Homo sapiens: one gene and its partner. The protein of the gene in region 1 purifies or fractionates together with the protein of each later gene. This does not show direct contact. Each region holds a gene or a part of one and is shown on either strand. Other genes may lie near its edges. The genes, in order: ICOSLG and TMEM131L.

Region 1 (3,814 bases):
GACGGTGCTCAACCTTGAACCTCTGAAGCTTTTAGACACTGTCCCGATGCCAGGTGCCAGCCCAGAGCTTCAGGTGCAATGGGTCTGGGCATGGGGGCTTTCATAGGCTGCCCAGATGACCCCACTGTGTGGCCGGGGTTGAGACGACAGCCCTGGGAGAAGCTTCTGCTGCCACCTGGGCTGCTCTGCGGGGAGTATGCTGGCTGGAAGGCAGTTATCAGAGGCTGCTTTGGGAGCAGCCCCTCATCCCGCTGCATGCAGCTCAGACACTCTGAATGTTGAGTCAGAAGGGCTGAGCCCTGATTTCAAGAAGGAGAAGGTCCGGCTCTGCCGGGGATCCTGGCGGCCAGGGTGGACTTCGAGGGTATGACCTGTGCAGGCTTCTGGGGTTGAGCTCAGAAAGGCCGGCAGGAGGTGCAATGCTTGTGGTCACTGTCTGGAATTCTTAATGCTCCCGAAACAAGGAGCCCTGCATTCTTGCTTTGCCCAGGGCCACACGGTGAGTCCTGCTGGCAGCCCCTTTCCTGCAGCCAGCAGGGCCCCAGGACCCCTCCTCGATCATCTCCTGCCTCCATCTTCTGCCTCTCATCCTGACACAGGAGATGGGGACACAAATGGGGAGGGCCTGTGTCCTCTACAAAGGAGTCCCCGTAGAGGAACCCCTTCCACAGGGCACCCCTTCCACAGGGAGGGGCTGGGCCAGCAGCCGTGCGCAGTGGGATTCCCGTGTCTGGGGGCTTCAGTCTTCTCAGGGGACACACGCCCAAGAGGCAGGGAGCTTGGGTGGGGGCTGCACAGCTGTGGGCTTCTGTTCTGGGCTGCTGCTGCCTAGTGCTGCGGCTTCTGAAGTGTTACCCAGCCTCAGAGTTCAGCCCTCATCTGTAAAGTAGGTTTAAGAAAACCGACTCCAGGTGAAGAAAATGGAGCAATATGCACTGGGCACGGCACCCATTCCTGTTCCCAGAGACCGCGGTGGTTCTCACTGTGCGGCATGTGCCTCTCACCTCCCCTCCCTTCCAACCACCTTTCGGGTGCTGAGCCGCGTCGAAGGGACTTTTTGTCTCCTACCTCAGAGGCTCTCCCAAGCCAGCCCTGGCCCCACTGTCGGGCACAGCTCAGCACGCAGGCGCCGGGACCTTACCTGTCTGGCTGCCGACAGTCAGGTTCTGCTGCAGAAGCACGTTCTCTATGCAGCAGCCAATGTTCACGCTGGGGGTCCGTGCGATCCTCAGCACGCTGACCACGTCATACAAGCCCCGCATGTTCAAGAAGACGGTGTCATTCTGCAGAGCCTGGTCCAGCAGGCTGTTGTCCGTCTTATTGATCCAGTACACGTTGGGCCTGGGGTAGCCGTTTATGGATGTACACGTGAAGGTGAGCTCATCCTGGGAGGGGCTGTGGGGGGCGCTGACGACGGGCACGCTGAAGTTTGCTGCAGGGGAGGGAAACAGATTGTGAGAGATGCCAGACCCTGCTGGTCAAGAAACAGAGGGTACACGGTGCCAAGGCTGGGTCAGAGGGGAGGCGGCCCATTGTGCCCCGACATGGGTGACAGGCCAGGACCAGGGCTGTGGTCCGAGCAGCAGGCTCCGCCCTGTCCTGCCCAAGAGTCATCCCCCAAGCCAGTCCCAGTAGCCAGGGACCGCTGAGCCTGTCGGGCAGTGACTGGCACCCACAGACCCCCCACTCCACAGCCGTCGGCTGTGCCGGGACCCCCTCATTTGGATCTGGTCATTCTCACTGCTGACACAGGGGCTCACAGTCCATCTGAAATGGACACAGCTGTTCTCCCCAATGAACTGCCCAGAGCTCCTTGGTTGCCTCTTATTTTTCTCTTAAATTTTGTTCTCATTTAGTGCTTTATAGAGTTCCCTTCAAATTTCACTTTTAAAACTCTAGTTTGGATGTGGTGGCTCACGCCTGTAATCACAGCACTTTGGGAGGGTGAGGCAGGAGGATCGCTTGTGTCCAGGAGTTTGAGACCAGCCTGGGCAACATAGTGAGACCCCATTTCTACAAATAATCAAAATTAGCCAGGCGAGGTGGCATGTGCCTGTAGTCCCAGATACTCAGGAGGCTGAAGCAGGAGAATTGCTTGAGCTCAGGAGGTCAAGGCTGCAGCGTGATCACGCTACTGCACTCCAGCCTGGGCAACAGTGAGACCCTGTCTCAAAAAACAAACTAATTGGCCAGGCGCGGTGGCTCACACCTGTAATCCCAGCACTTTGGGAGGCTGAGGCGGGCGGATCACGAGGCCAGGAATTTGAGACCAGCCTGGCCAACATGGTGAAACCCTGTCTCTACTAAAAATACAAAAATTAGCTGGGTGTGGTGGCACGCGCCTGTAGTCCCAGCTACTCGGGAGGCTGTGGAGAATTGCTTGAACCCAGGAGGCGGGGGTTGCGGTGAGCCAAGATTGTGCCACTGCACTGCAGCCTGGGTGACAGAGCGAGACTCCGTCTCAAAAAACAAAAACAAAAACAAAAGCTAACTAACTCAAGAGGCAAAGACAGCAAGGGTAGGAGCTCTTCCGGGAAACCAAGCAGCCGCAGGTCATGCACTAAGGATTTTTCAGCTGTTTAGTTTCCCTCGAAGTTAGACAGAAGCCTGATAACACAGATGAGAATTTTCTTCACTGGAAGAAACAGTGAATGAGCCAGGGAGGGGGTTTCATGAACACTTGTCCACGATGTGAGGCTGGGATGGACCTAGCTCTCCCCGCCTCGATGGTCCTACCTGCCACATGCAGTGTAACCTCAACGCTCAAAACCTCCTGGAATCCCAGGGATTGGCTCAACACCAGGCAGTGAAACTTCTGCTCGTCCTGGGGGGTGACGTTGAACAAGCGCAGGGAGAAGTCGCCCCGCAGCATGCCGGCCGGTGACATCAGGGCTCGGTTCCGGTAGCGGCTGTCCACGTTTTCCAAGGAGCTGTTCTGTGGGATGTGGTAGGTCACCACGGTTTTCGACTCACTGGTTTGCCAATATACGTAAACATCATTTAAATCAAAACGGCTTCCTTCAGGGCAAGCGCAGCTGAGCTCCACGTCGCTGCCTACCATCGCTCTGACTTCCTTCTCCTGAGTATCTGCAATGGCCCAAAAGGTGCAAAATCTGTTTTCGGAGGCTGATGCCCAGGCCATGAAGCTACTCTATGGGGCAGACTTTGGGTTTCAAGCCTCAAACACCAACGGTGGCTCAGAATTTATTAACAAGGCACATGTAGGAATGCAGTCAAACTTGAAAAACGCAGACATTTCATGGTGAGGTCCATGTCAGTCTTTGGCTTCGATGACACACTCCTGTTATGTAAGGGGCTGCCATGGGGAGGAGCGGCTGGATGGGGCCTGGCCGCTCAGTGTTATTTTTGTTACTCAGCACTACTTTTACTACTTCTCGGGAGTCTATAATTAATGCACAATAAAAAGTTCTTTAAGGGAAAGGCATTTAAGGGAAAAGAATTTCTCAGCAATTACATTATATTGCTGCTCACTTGCAGTAGGAAAGCTGTCACAAATGTGGCAGACACAGGGTAGCTTTACTGTTTGTGCAGCTACGTAAATGCCTGTGGGAAAATCTTTTTTTTTGAGATGGAGTCTTGCTCCGTCACCCAGGCTGGGGTGCAATGGCGTGATCTCAGCTCACTGCAACCCCCGACTCTGGGGTTCACGCCATTCTCCTGCCTCACCCTCCCAAGTAGCTGGGATTACAGGTGCCCGCCACCATGCCCAGCTAATTTTTTGTATTTTTAGTAGAGATCGGGCTTCACTATGTTGGCCAGCCTGGTCTCGAACTCCTGACCTCAGGTGATCCAC
Region 2 (3,740 bases), on another chromosome or scaffold:
CATAAGAAGCACAGAAACCTGAAAGACCCAGGGAGAATTGTCTCACAACATACACACCCCTTATTTCTATGTAGCCCTGGCTTCTGGTAGATTTTCACATGCGTACATCATTCCATAAGCAATTCTTAATCAGACCTAGGGAAGGTGGAACCAATCTGCTTTGTCTGTCTCATACATTTATTAACAGCGGCTGTCCACAGGAGCCTACGCAGCAGGATGAGGCCACTTTGCAGTATTGACCTCAGCCATGCCCTAGAGTCTCAGACCCAACCAGCTGAACAAATCCCACAGACCACCAGGGTCTACCTTAGAGAGCCAGATGGCTTTCTCTTTAAGTTTCTGTGTTGATCTCTCCACTTGGCCAGAGGCATTACTCCAGGTACAGCAGGATGTGTTAGTGATTGCATAGACTGCACCTTGGCCTGCAAGGAGAACATCTGGAGCCATTCTGTCATCTGTAACAACCACGGCCAGTGAGTTGAGGCTGATCCAAATGCCTTCCAGGGACCAGGTGCTGTCTTCAGTCACTTCAGCTAGTATCAGCAAATTCCATACCAGCCATTTCTAACTGGATAGCTCCTTCCTAGTGATTACTGCCCATAGGATGTGCGTGAACCAGTTATCCTTCCAGGAAGCCTACTGTGTGCCCGTTGTGTGATGCTGGAAGTGTTGCCATGTCTGGGGCAATGATGCACCCAGGCAACAACAATGGCAGCCTGGGTGATGCAGACCTGATCAGTATCTTGATTCCAGCTGGCCGCAGTGGAGAACATACCCTTACCAAGGACCTCTATCTTGACTGGCTGTAAGGTTTAATCAGAAGCCAAGATCCATTTTCACATTTCAGAGCCCTGGAGAACAGTGTCTTCAATCTGCCCATCTGTTGCTTCCCAAGTGGCAGACCAAGCACCTAAACCATTGGCAATAGCCTGAGAGTTGTTTACACCTAGCAGGGTTTCTTCAGGGCAGAATTAGCCAGAGCTGTGAGAACCACTTTGGGTTCTGCCCACTGATCAAAATGGTTGTGGTCCTTTTCAGTTCTGCATGGTGGGCATTGAGGTGGGACAGCTGCAGCCTCCCAGTAGATGCTGTCTGATTTCAGCCTGATCCAGCCATCAGTGAGCCAGGCCCAGGCATTTAAGGGAGCCCTTGGGAATTGAGGGCCCACTGAGCCAACAACTTCACTTCAGGTGCAGAGTGGGGGATAAAGTTTCCCTAGAGGGGTACCTGCCATTTTTCCACATAAAGCTGAAATATAGGTGGGGCAAGCCCACTGCATGAGCACCAGCCTCTTTGCATGAGTTCCCCTGAGCCCCATGGGGATATTTAATCACAGAATATCTAATATCTAATATAGGGGTGACTCAGACAGCCCTAGATGGATGCCACACACAGTGGGTTGTGCTACAGGAGAAGAACCCTGAGCTTTGGGACCCCAAAGCTTTTATAATAGGCAACAAGCATGCCTGCCCTTTGCTCCAGAAAGAGACACTATATGTTCCGAGGCTTTTGCTTAGCAAACATCTATGAAAAGATAGTCCAGGAGAAAGGTTGCCAGTGCCTCTGGCAGAAATGGGAGAGATCCCTAGAGACTTGTGTCCAAGAAGTCAACTCTGCTCAAAACCTTCCAGTAGCTTCAAAGTAAATGCCTAAATTCTTCAAGGGGCCCACAGGCTCTGTCTTCTCTGCTCCCAATCCGCTCTCTATAGCCTCATCCCCTACTCTTCCACTTTCCCCTCTCCTTCCTGGCTACACTGATATCCTTGCTGTTTGAACTCCCCAGGCACACCTTGCTTCAGGGCTTTTGTGGTACTGTTTCTGCTGCCTGGAATGTGCTTCCCTGTACCCACTGGACTCACTTCCTCACGTCAATCACGTCTTTGAGGAGCTGTTTTCTCAGTGAGGCCTTTGACCATCCTATCTTAAATCATTGTATTTGGCCAGGCGTGGTGGCTCACGCCTGTAATCCCAACACTTTGGGAGGCCGAGGCAGTGGATCAGTTGAGGCCAGGAGTTTGAGAGCAGCCTGGTCAACATGGTGAAACCCTGTCTCTACTAAAAATATAAAAATTAGCTGGGCATGGTGGTGTGTGCCTATAGTCCCAGTTACGCAGGAGGCTGAGGCATGAGAATCACTTGAACCTGGGAGGTAGAGGTTGCAGTGAACCAAGATGCCACCACTGCACTCCAGCCTGGGCAACAGAGTGAGACCATCCCTCCCCCCACCCAAAAAAAAATGCTGTATTTGCCATCATGGCACGCACATTATCTGGCATGCTACACTTTGTTTGTTGTTTGTCTTTGCTCACTTGAATGTAGCTTGTTCACTGCTGTATCCTCAGTATCTTTAATGGGGCCTTGCAGAAAGTAGTTCCTCAAATATTTGTTATGTGAGTCTCATCTTGTCATCCAGGTCAAGAGACAATCGGACACTGTCTGAAGAAACGGTCAAAACAATATGCTGTATTTCAGAATTATATCCTGAAATTATATTCCGAAAGGAGTTAGTCAGCATGTGTGGGTGACATTAGGGAGTGTTTTCTGGAGGGAAGGGCAGGTGCAGGAAGGGTAGGATGAGGGCCAGGTGAGGATAGGGTGGACTCAGGCCTTGTTCTCTTCCGTAGGTCTTTACTCACCTGGAGACCTGTGGCCCACTCCGCCAGTGTGTGTGACAAGCAGCTTAAACTGCACCCTGGAGAACGGCGTGCCTTGTGTGATTCAGGAGTCGGCCCCGGTTCATAATAGGTACAGCTTCACTTCTCTGATTGGTGCCTTGCTTAGTCTAAGGGCTTGCAGTTGGAATTTGAGTTCAGTTTCTTAGGGTTTCCTTACAAAAATGAAGGCTAGGCTTCTTCCTTGGTGTACTTTAGCTGTGCGTTTCCTTCTGCCTTTTAGAGTTGCACTGGGACTAAACCAGGCATTGAGAGAAACATGAAATAAAAGAAAGAAAGCTGGTGACAGTGTCGTTATTTTTTAAAAACGTCTTTAAAAAAGACGATTTTTTCATATATTAGAGGCAGATTTGAAAAAAAAACACTCATAATTCCTAACTGCTAGCAGAGCAAAGCTGTTCATTTTTCTGTGGCATTATTCTTGAACACGTTTAACGTTGTATTTATTCGTTTGTTTATTTATTTTTTAGAGACAGAGTCTTGCTCTGTCGCCCAGGCTGGAGCGCAGTGGTGCAATTATAGCTCACTGCAGCCTTGAACTCCTGGGTTCAAGCGGTTCTCCTGCCTCAGCCTCTCAAGTAACTGGGACTACAGGTGTGTGCCACCATGCTGGTCTAATTTTTAATTTTTTTTTTTTTTTTTTTGTAGAGACAGGATCTTGCTTTGTTGCCTAGGCTGCTCTTGAACTCTTGGTCTCAAGCTATCCTCCTGCCTTGACCTCCCGAAGTGTTGGTATTATAGGCATGAGCCAATACACCTGGCCCAAATTTAAAGTTTTAAAAGATCAAATAATTTGAATATTGAAAAATAGTTACACAATGGCAGTTTCTCAAATTTGCTATTTGACATTAATATGTCATTCTATTAGGGAGTCTTAAGAAAATGTTAGATATTTAATCACAGAATCCATTTGATGGTTTTCTTGGTTCAGCTTATTACAACAGTATTTCCTATCTCATTTCTATAATAAGAATCTAGGTTGCAATAGGGATCAAAGTATAATGAAGTATAGTCTTTATAGTTATGCTTGTCTAAGATGAATGCTGGTCTTGCTCTGAGTGGACGTTT

Evidence for each region.
Region 2: the proteins of ICOSLG (region 1) and TMEM131L purify together in Homo sapiens (affinity purification with mass spectrometry; one large-scale study listed by BioGRID and IntAct). This does not show direct contact.

Annotation. Positions count from the first base shown.
Region 1 is NC_000021.9:44,234,131-44,237,944, forward strand, and holds part of ICOSLG (ICOS ligand isoform a precursor), read right to left. Parts: intron 3,088-3,814; coding exon 2,737-3,087; intron 1,433-2,736; coding exon 1,142-1,432; intron 1-1,141. UniProt on the Homo sapiens protein: Ligand for the T-cell-specific cell surface receptor ICOS. Acts as a costimulatory signal for T-cell proliferation and cytokine secretion. Also induces B-cell proliferation and differentiation into plasma cells.
Region 2 is NC_000004.12:153,630,094-153,633,833, forward strand, and holds part of TMEM131L (transmembrane protein 131-like isoform 1 precursor), read left to right. Parts: intron 1-2,624; coding exon 2,625-2,745; intron 2,746-3,740.